2 separate regions of the Homo sapiens genome follow, and region 2 is linked to region 1. The links come from fine-mapping of genetic effects on gene expression. Tissue or cell type: whole blood. Region 1 holds a variant in brackets; the other region holds the start of a gene. All regions are shown on one strand. Distances are between the middles of the regions.

Evidence for each region. PIP is the estimated chance that this variant, and not a neighbour inherited with it, causes the effect.
Region 2: PADI2 starts here. The variant in region 1 is fine-mapped to the expression of PADI2 in whole blood (INTERVAL, PIP above 0.99).

Annotation. Positions count from the first base shown.
Region 1 is chr1:17,095,401-17,100,765 of GRCh38, forward strand. PADI2 (peptidyl arginine deiminase 2) reads right to left here. Exons shown (of 16, transcript NM_007365.3): 4 at 509-570. Among named protein-coding and RNA genes, the nearest start is that of PADI2, 21 kb to the right of the region's middle. The variant C/T (reference allele first, on the strand shown) is at 2,950.
Region 2 is chr1:17,116,159-17,121,523 of GRCh38, forward strand. It overlaps PADI2 (peptidyl arginine deiminase 2), which reads right to left and starts at 3,293. Exons shown (of 16, transcript NM_007365.3): 1 at 3,122-3,293. The coding sequence starts at 3,213. RefSeq lists a silencer at 3,103-3,312 and an enhancer at 3,884-4,418.

The DNA of each region.
Region 1 (5,365 bases):
CAAGATAAAAGAAAATAAGTAAATGAACGAGGGAACAAATGAATGAATGGTGAATGAATGCAAGAATAAATAGAAAGAGGAGAGGGGCCGTGCATGCACCAGCAGAGATAATACCACGCCTGGAACTGAGAATGATGAATGCGACCCTCTGTCCTGAGGGTCTGTCTCCCCCACCTCCCTAGTCTTAAAAGAACAGGCAAAATAATAAGAGCAAATGCCTTCACAGTGCTTCCTCTGTAGCGGGCACATTTATCCTTCCCAGCAGTTCCATGAATTGGGCGTCCCCATCATGGGATGGAGAAACTGAGACTCAGGAGCCTGCTCTGTTGCCGTCTCTAGGAGATGCCTGAGCTCCTCTGTGGGTTCCATCATTGGTATGCTGTGTGTCTGGGAGCCTGTCTTGGGCTTTAGTCTCCTGAGCTGTGAAATGGGAATTGCCTGCGGGATCTGGGGCTGTGCCCTCGGAAGCCCTGGGTTCAGGGTGGTGCCTGCCCTGAAAGCTAGGTACCTTCTTTGGGTTGTTCTTCTCCACCACACCATCCCGGTCTGCGTCCACATCCAGGGAGATCTCTGGGGAGAAGAGACATGGGTGAGTTGCTGAGCCTGCCAGGCAGGGCAGGGCAGGGGCAAGAGGAAGACCTGTGGGATTTGGGTGCGTCTCAGCCATTCATTTGGTCACGGGAAAGAGAGGACCTCGCTGAAGTCATCTTATGCAACCCCCTGCCTCAACATCCCACTACCCACTGGAGACCGTCAGCAGACACCGTGTGGACCTCGTAGCTTACGGCTGCAAGAGCTGCCATCGGGGAGGTCTGGGACCTCCTACCACTTCATTGTTCTGGCTGGGGGTTGGGGAATGATCCTCGCTGCACAGATCTGGATGCCTCAGTTCAGAGGTGAAGTCGCATGCCCAAGATCACATAGGGACGCTAGCAGAACTGGGGTACACAGTGCGGTTGGTCTGATTCATAGTTCATATTCTGAAAACTTAACAGGGATAGCATTCCCAAACTGCCTTTCTCAGTCTACCCGGGCATGCGCATAGGTGTGCACATGTGCACCTGGGTGTGCGTGTCTCTTTCTCTCCCAGAACTTCCAGTGGGCTAGATCCCACCTTCAAGGACTGAGGGTTTTACTGTGGGTGGGAAGCTGTCTCTAACCCCTCTTGGTCTGAGGTCACCTGTGAGTCTAGATGGAGGATCCAGGGCCAGGCCCCCACTTATCCCTTCTCTTGGTGAAGGGACCCTCAGCATCCCTAGGCCTGCCATGGAGACAGGCTTTGTGGAGACTGTAGGGAAGTGAAAAGGTTTAGTATCAGACAAGGTGGGGTTTAGACCCTGGTTCTCTGCTTATAAGCTGTGTGACTTTGGGCAGGTTAGAGGACCTCTCTGAGCCCCAGTTTCCTCACTTGTAACATGGGGCCCTTCCTGGTTACAGCAGATGCATTAGCTGCAATGGAAGGCACTACTGACATTTTTGAGCCAAATAACTCTTTGTGTGGGGGCAGCCTGTGCATTGTAGGATGTTTAACAGCACTCCTGGCTTCTACCTACCAGATGCCAGTAACATCCCTCCCAGTCGTGACAGCCAAAAATGTCTCCAGATATTGTCAAATGTCCCTTGGGAGGCGAAATTGCCTTGAGTTGGAGACGGATGAGGTCGAGTAGGGATGTGGTTGGGAAGGTGTTGGGAGTGTCACACACATGACATGTGCCCGTTCCAGGTCCCCAGAGCTGCCCGAGTGGGCTCATCTCACGCTGAGCATGACTTGGACCTGGTGGGCGCTGGGTGGTAATGAATGCATTCCTGGTTAGTCCCCGTGGCAGGCACACCCTCTGCCTGGAGGGCATGGAAAGGAGGGTCCTGGCACACGAAGTGCACTGATGTCACCCTTCTCTGGGCCAACCAAGCCCAGAGTCCAGAGATCACATTCAGGTCCTCCCTTTGCCTATAGCCTGCATACCCTAGACCTGCATGTGACTTTTCCAGTCTAGAAGGAGGCTGCAAGGGCGCCTGGCCCTTGAGAGAGGCAGTCTTGTGTGTCCCAGCCTCTGCAGCTGTGCGGTGAGTTAGGTGCTGTAAGGCATAATTTGTAACCTCCTCCCTCCGATCGCATTCACTCCACATTTCACTGCTGAGGAGCTACTGCTCCGGGAGCTGTACCAGGCAACGGGCAATGGAGGCACAGCACCTGCTCTCAAGGCGTCCACAGTCCCATGAGATGAATAGCATTGCTCTCGTTTCACAGGGCAGCAAACCCAGGTTCAGAGAAGCCACTTGTCAGCAAATCGGGCTGGTAATCTGGGAGGCTGGTGCAGGATAAGGACCCCAGGGGAAAGAAGGGAAGGCGGTACCACCAGGGGCTAAGAGCCTGGGGTGCAGGGGCAGGAATAATACTGGTTTTGGTTCCTGGACCTTTGTGAACTTTCCAGCCGGTCACGTCCACTGAATGCTGCCTTTCAGGGAGCTGGCTTCCTGAAACTCCTCCCTCGGAAGGAGCCGCAGGTCCAGCCTCTTTAGGGAGCCACTCTGTCCTTTTCAAGGTAAAAATTTCTCCCCTGCGGGCATCCTGCTCTGCAGCTGCACAGCGTTTTCCAAGGTGTGTTCTCTCGGCCACTCCAGGGGAGGCGTGACCACCCCCACCCCCTAACGATACAGATGAGGAAACCCAGGCCCGCAGCAGGGAAGTGACCACCGAAGTTCCCAGAACGCAGAGCCAGGCTCTCAGCAGGGCCTCGGACTCCGGCTGCCTGCTCTCTGCTGTTCCCTGCAATGAACCCAGGCTGACCTCCCTGCAAGCTGTTTCCAAAAGCCCAGCCCAAAGTCAAAGACACAAGACTTGCTCCCTTGAAGGTCATTCCCAGAGGAAGTGCCCATTTCCCCACCTTGGTAGCCCTGCGGCCTTCGTCTCTAGGCCGTAAGGTGACATTACATTGGGACTCCTTGTGG[C/T]GAGTCCATTAAAGCAGTGGGGCCGTGGGCTAGGAGAGAAATTATGGTGCAGTCTATACTGCTTCATTTCATTATGAATTCTTAAATGGAAACATTTTATTCATGTAATATTTGGACATAGTACAAACAAAATCAAATAAAATAGTAACACACTGTTTCTAAAGAAAGACAGCAGTTCCTTGTCCAGCCCTTCTTCTCAGCTGCCTAAGGCAACCTCTCTCATGCTTATTGCGATTTCCTGATTTACTGAATTCAGACAGGTTTCGTTACCTTCCTGTTACGAAATGTGGGCATTTCACAGTGTGGCTCCCTTATCGTCCTCCCAGCCTCTCACAGGGCTTCATAACTCCTCTCTGATGACCCATGACCTGTCCCCATAATCCACTGAAATGACCTTCTGGCCCCTTCACCCTCAGAGACCGCCCACCCTGTAGTCATGCCCATGGGACTTCGCCCCTGCAAGGCTTCCCCCAATGTCTGATTTAACTAGATTCCAGTGGGATGCTGCGGGTAGGGGCAGAGAACAGGGCTGGTGTGACCTGCCCAGAGCATTGCCTCTTGGGATGGCTCTGCCTTCCCGAGGGGGAGGAGGGAGAGGAGCTCTGCTTCAGGGCCTCCAGGCTCCAGACGACATTTCCCAGAGGCTCTGGATCCCACCTCAGTTCCCCAGAATAGCCCCAAGGCGTCAGGTGGCTCCTGGGTGTGGGGCAGATTGACGGGAAATGTCCCTAGGATTGGGTTCAAGGCAGTCTGCCCTGAGAATGAAGACACTGAAGCCTCAGCTCTGACCGAGAGGCACAAGCATTTTGGAGGGTCGCCAGAGAGTGGCAGGGTGCCTGGCCTTCTTGCCTTACTAAGCAGCTTGAGATGTTATGGGAAGGAAGGACACCCTCCCCCACAGCCAATCAGGGCAAGTATCCCAGCCTCTGGGGAGAAGGCATAGGATCAAGCCCCTTAGGTTGATGTTAAAATTTTCTGGGGCCCGCATATGTGTACTCCTTCCACTGCCAGGACCTCAAATAGGGTGGGATTCTTCCTCCCTCCCCACACCTCACCTCTTGCTCTCCCCCATCCCTCCCAAAAAATGGAAGTCTTTGCAAATCAACCCTAACCAGGGTCTTGAAGGTCCTTAGGGATTAATTAGCTCAAACCCCTTATTTTATAGTTTGTAAAAAGTGAGTCCTAGTGGGGGTGGTTACTTGTTAAGGTCACACAGCAAGTCCTTGGCGGGATTGGGACAAAGACCCAGAGCCTGATCTGGCCAAAGGAATCATGAATTTGCTCCCAAATCCCAGAAGGAAGAAGGAGAGACCATACATTTCTTTAACTTCACCCAGGCAGAGAGAAAATGCGGCCACCTCAAGAGCAAGAGAGAAAAGCAGGCGGAGCATTGACTAAGCACCCACTCTGTGCCGGGCCCTTCGCACACAACATCCCACTGAATCCTTGTAAACACCATGCAAGGCTGCTCTGTGAAGCGCATTTTATAGATGAGGAAGCCAAGGCTCAGGGGGATGATGTGACTTGTCACAAGCTGGCTGGAGGGGACAGAGAAAGATCTTAGGCTTACTTCTGTCTACCCAGAAGCCAAGGCTCTTTCTGCTCAATGTGGACTCAGGATAGGACCAGGGTGAGAGAGATTCAGATACATTTTTGTGCCCAGGGGACAGTCCCAGCCTCTCAAGATATTGGGGTTGGGGGGGGGCTTGCCTCTGAGGCGCTGCCCCTGAGTGATTGATTACTCAGGATGACGGGCTCAAGGGCTCCTGGGGCAGATGCTCGAGAAAAGAGAAAACCTAGAAGGGACAGAGAGAACAGTGGTCCCCAAGGGAAACCAGATTTTCACCAGGGTCTCTGTTGGAACAGGAAACAGAAGTTCAATGGTGTTAGTTTCTTTTTGCAATTGAATGACTGTCTCTTATTCTGTTTTTTGTTTTGTTTTGTGTTATTTTTGAGACAGAGTCTCATTCTGTCGCCGAGGCTGGAGTGCAGTGGCACTGTGTCAGCTCACTGCAACCTCTGTCTCCTGGTTTCAAGCAATTCTCCTGCCTCAGCCTCCTGAGTAGCTGGGATTACAGGCGTCCACCACCATGCCCGGCTAGTTTTTATATTTTTAGTAGAGACAGGGTTTCACCATGTTGGCCAGGCTGGTCTTGAACTCCTGACCTCAGGTGATCCGCCCACCTCGGCCTCCCAAAGTGCTGGGATTACAGGCGTGAGCCACTGTGCCCGGCCATGACTGTCTTTTATTCTGAGATTATGCCTTGCCTATTTTTTAAGAGTTAAAATGATAGTGATAGTTGATAGCAAATTTTTTTTTTTTTTTTTTTGAGACAAAGTCTCGCTCTGTCGCCCAGGCTGGAGGGCAGTGGCACCATCTTGGCTCACTGCAACCTCCACCTCTTGGGTTCAAGCA
Region 2 (5,365 bases), 21 kb after region 1:
CTCAAGGTCACACAGCCCGTGGATGGAAGCTGGTAGGGCAGTGCCTGCCAGGACCACAAGGTCTATTGAGGAATGAGGCTGGGGAGGCCCCTGCTATGTGTCTGGAGGGGATCCTGTGTGCCAGCATCACAGGAAAGGGAGTCCAGAGCCCTTGGGAAAGGGAGTGGGTGCTGAGGCCGTTTCGCTCACCTTTGCGACTCAGAAGGAGTGAGGGTCAGGATGCCACTCCGTAATTAACTGGGCCCAGCACCCCCGGGCCTTGTTCCTTGGGGTCTACTTGGAGGCTCTGGGGGCATCACTTGGGGTCTTGAGCCAGGACCTGTGTCCGGGCAGCAAAGGACTCAGGGAAGAGTGGAGGGCCAAATGGGAGTTGGTGAAGTCTCTGGGGACAGTGGGCTCGTGGCCAGGGTGGAAGAGACACAGGCTGAGAGGGCCGTCCAGTTCAACCCGCTGGTTTTAGGGTCACATAGGACAGAGTGGGGTATAAGAGCATGAGTTCTGAGTCAAACAGACCTGGACCTGAGTCCTGTGTGACTCTGGACAAATGGCTTCATCTCTCTGAGCCTTACCTTCCTCATCTGTAAAATGGGATGATCAATGAACCCTCCAGGGTCTATGGTGAGGAAGAAAGGAGGTGGTGGGTTCAGTTCCTAAGTGCCCACTAATACCTCCTCCTGTTATCAATACTGGCAGTTGCTCTCATTACTACAGGTAACTCGAGTCACAATAGCAGTAACAACTCAAGCTCCTTAGTCCTGGAAGAGGCTTCCTTCCACTGGACCAGTGAGTCTCAGCTGGCTGTGATTTTGCCCCCTGCCAGGGGACTGCTGGCACTGTCTGGCAACATTTTTGGTTGTCACAATTTGGGGGTTGCTACTGGCATCTAGGGGACAGAGGTCAGGGATGCCACTAAACATCCCGCTACAACAAAGAAATATCGAGCCCAAAATGCAATAGTGCGAGATTGAGAAACTCTGCACTAGACCTGTTCTGTCCCGGTGTCACTGGCTCACGGTGGCCAGTGAGCACCTGAGATGCACTCAATCTACGCTGAGATGTGCTGAAGTGTAAAATGTGCACTGGATTACAAAGACTTAGCATGAAAAAAGGAAGGTAAACCATTTCCTTAATAATTTTTATATTGATTGCATGTTGAAATGATAATATTCTAAAATATTGGGTTAAACAAAATATATTATTAAAATTATGCCTGTTGTTTTAACTTTAAAAAAGTGTGGACTACTAGAAGATTTAAAATGCAATTGTGGTTTTGTTGTGGTTCAAACTGGACTTTTCTGGACAGTACTGGTCTAGAGCGCACTGCCCCTCTCTGTGGTGGTGGAGAACCTTAAGTGCCGGTGGGGGTTAGGGTCTTTGTGGTCGTTGAGACAGGACAAGGGGAATCGTCACACTGCTGCCCCCTGCTAGAGGGAGGCTGAGTCCATATCTGCCCCACTCTGTGCCCCTACCCCAGCTGGGCCTCTCTTTGCCAGGATAGAGCGATAGCAGGGCGCCTGAGCAGGAACCCTCCTTTGCTCCCCACCCCCGACTGGGAGGATCATGCCAGCTTTTCAGGCGGCACCAACCATGCCCCAGCAAATAAACAGGTGGGTATGGTGACAGCTGAGGCTTAGAGACCTGAGCACTCTGGCTCCGCGCCCACTCCCTAGCGGTGCCCAGTTCAGGGCTGGGGGTGGGGAAGGCAGGGGAGCTCTTGCACCCCACCAGAGCCTGGACCACCCTCCACTGCTGTGTTCTTGTTCTCAGAGACCACCCAGTCCACCTCTGAGGTTTACATGGGGGACAACTGAAGCCCAGGCCCAGGGGAAGGCAGAGGTTGAGGCCAGGGACAGAGGCATGGAGTGGGTCCCTAGTCCTGGGGCTTGTTGGTATCAGCGTGGCCAGTGCCTCTGCAGCGGTGGCAGGAGACTGGTTGGGCAGGTGGGAGGGCTGCCAGGGCTGTGTGGGGAGACACATGATGGGTTGGTGGGGGCCTGGGAGAGGCAGGGTGCTCCAGGTGTCAGGATGATTTGAGAGCCATAAACCACGATGGTGCCTCCGTGTGAGTTCAGCTTGAGGCAGAGAGGATAGGGGACTCATCCGGTGTCAGCACAGGGTCCCACCTCAGAGTCCTGCATGCTCCCTGCCCCCAGCACTGACCCCTCCAACCCTAGCAATGGGGAGGTTTTAAATGCTTGGAATAGAGGGGGCAGATCAAACCCCAGCATAACCCCACCCTTTCATTCACACCAGCCACACCTTTCCAAGGCCCCGTCCCATTACTCAGGGAGACAGATCATTGGACTTGGCTGCTTTCTGGGATTGCGGGGGGAGTGGTAGGGCCCTACCCTACCTTCAGCTGTCTCGGACATCCCGCACTCTACCAAGTTCTTGGACAGAGAGAAGGGGAGGGAGCAGAACTCTGAATCAGGATCCTTTTCCAACAAAGTACCCCGCTATACACCCCAAGTCCCCGTCGTCAGCTGGGTAGAATATTGTCCCTCTGTGGTCTCAGAATGAAGTCAGGGGAAGGTATCTGGGGACACGGAGCTCAGGGCCAGTGCCTGGGGACAAGCAACCACCAGCAGCCCCCACAGGGCGAAATCGGAGCCTGAGTAACCTCCAGGGCCGGATTCAGCCTCAGGGCAGCTCCCTTCGGGTCCTGCCCCAGTCCCCGGCAAGTCTCCGCGGAAGCTCCGCTGAACTGGGAGTGGGAAGCAGGAGAGGGGCTGGGTTGAGGTGGGTCCGAGGGGAAGTGAGGTGCGGAGGGGAAGTGAAAGGGGAGAGGACGGCAGGGAAGCTGAAGGGGTGTGAGGTCCCCCGGGAGGAGAACTGGAGAGGGCCAGACGGAGGGTTACGGGTGAAAGGGAGGGTCTGTGAGGGAGCTGGGGCTGAGGCTGTGTTAGGGGGTCTGGGAGAGTCTCAGGGTTTCTGGAAGGTGGACACAAGGTTCGGGGGTTGTCAGGTTTCTGGATGAGATTCTTAGGATTTCTGGGCTCGGGGGCTCGGGATGAGGGACAACTCGGGCTGGACAAAGGCTGTCCACGTCCCCGAGTCTGAGCGCGTCTCAGGATTTCTGGGCTCGAGATCTCGGCCCGGGCATCACGGTGGGCCGGCTCACCTGTAGACATCGGTCCAGAGGTAGGTGCCCAGCACGTACACCGCCTCCACGCGGCTCCCGTACTGCAGCCGCACGGTCCGCTCGCGCAGCATCCTCCCCGCCGCAGTGCCCGCGCTCGCTGGTCCGGGGCGGCCGGGAGCACCTGCAGCAGGTGCGCCTTCTCCAGCAGCCTGCGCCCCACGGCCCCGCGCGCAGCCTTATCCAGCGGCCGGTGGGCGGGGCGGCCCGCCCCAGTCCTCTCGCAGTGGGCTGCGGGCCTGTCCGTCAAGCGTGGTCCCGCCCCTAACTCGTCCCGCCCCGCTGAGGTCGTGGCGAAGTCATCAGGGACCAGTTTTGTGCTTTCCATGGTTGGATTGTCATTCTTTCATTCGACAAACCTTCGGTGGGCGCCCAGGTGTTGGAGGGCCCTAGCTCCCCTCCGGACGCCCCAGCCCAGTGGGGCTGAAAATGCAAATGTGGGAACACAAAGAGGGTGCCCTAACCCAGCCTGGGGGCCAGGAAGCCTTCCCAGAGAAGACGATCCTGGAACCTTCTTAAAGGAGGCGTTTGCAAATTAAAGGCGAGGAGAGGGAGCTGCCTGTGCAAAGCCGGGTGCAGCCCGGTACCCCCATCCCCCAACAGTCAGATGAACCTCACCATAGAGAAAACGGGAAGCGGTGGGGATGGGGAACCCGGCAGCTGAGGGAGACCAGGACGCCAAGCCAAGGCATTGGAGGGTGGGAGATGGGAGCCTGGAGTGGTTGTCTCCGCGAGCCGTGGTCGGGTGTGCTCGTGAAATGGGTCATTCTGGGCTGGGGAGGGGCAAGGAAGCCCCTGGCTGTGGCCAGAGCTGGAGAGGTGGGGACTGACCCGGCCACTGCTTAGGGACTGGGATTTTGGTGGCACCTGGTGACTGATAGGATGTGTGGGTGGAGGGAGAGGAGAGGGGTAAGGATTAGGGCCCCGGTTCTGGCCTGGGCCACCAAGGGAAGGGGGGTGCCACCCAGAGGTCATCGTGTGTCTCACAGAGGCTGAGATGTAGGATGACAATCAGTGTGGGCCTCGGCCAGCCCCTCCCATGTCCCAGCCCTTCCCCTGGGACCCAGTGGGAGTGCTGTTCAGACACATACATCAGCCCTGTGTGAGGAAGTGGTCTTTGGTAGGTGAGGACAGAAACTGAGGGGGGGTGGGCAGAGGCCGTGGGAGGGAAGGAGTGGGGCGGAGGGGATGTGTGTTTGGGAAGGAGTTAGAGCTGATGGAAGATGGAGCTCCAGGAACGGGTGCCCCCAGACAAGAGGGGTGAGGCCCACAAGTGCCCAGTGCTGATATACCCAGCCCTTGGACTCCAACCTTCTCCCTGAGGCGGCCCAAATTAGGAGGTGGTGAAGAGCCCAGCTGCTTCTGAGTGGCAGGGATTTGGGAGGAATGTGAGTGGGGAAGAGGGAAGGCCCGAGTTTTAGCCAGGAGGTCATTTGTCCCCCAAAGGCACAGCTCACAGACCCAGGGAGAGGCCAGTAACTGTTTTTTTTTTTTTTTTTTGAGACAGAGTTTTCCTCTTGTTACCCAGGCTGGAGTACAATGGCGCCATCTCAGCTCATTGCAACCTCCGCCTCCCAGGTTTAATTGATTCTCCTGCCTCAGCCTCCCAAGTAGCTGGGATTACAGGCAGGCACCACCACACCCAGCTAATTTTGTATTTTTAGTAGAGACGGGGTTTCTCCATGTTGGCCAGGCTGGTTTTGAACTCCTGATCTCAGGTGATCTACCTGCCTCGGCCTCCCAAAGTGCTAGGATTACAGGCGTGAGCCACAGCGCCCGGCCGAGGCCAGTAACTTCTGATGAACTCCAGGCACCCGGCTGAGCACATCCTCCAATCAGGAGGAATCTCTCGGGTGGCCACCTGCCAAACTGGGACAAAACTTGTGTAGCTTGGAGAGACTTCGAGGCGCCCCCAGAGGTGAGCTCGTGTCTGGGCACCCCTCTGCCACGAGTGACTTTGGAGCCCTTACTGTGTGACAGATAACGGGCACCCACCAGGGTTCTCACCTTCCTGGGGCTCTAACTTTCATTTGACTCATGGGGAGACTGGGGCCAGAGTGGGGGAGGACACTGTACCCCCCACTGACGGAGACCCCGGGCAGCTCATAACAGGACACTGGGCAAGATAGTGATAACATCAGACCGCAATACCCAGGGGAGCTGGAGTAAGAGCGGGCACTTACTGCTTTCTTTCTGTGGGTCAGGCACTGTTCCAAGCGGCTCTTT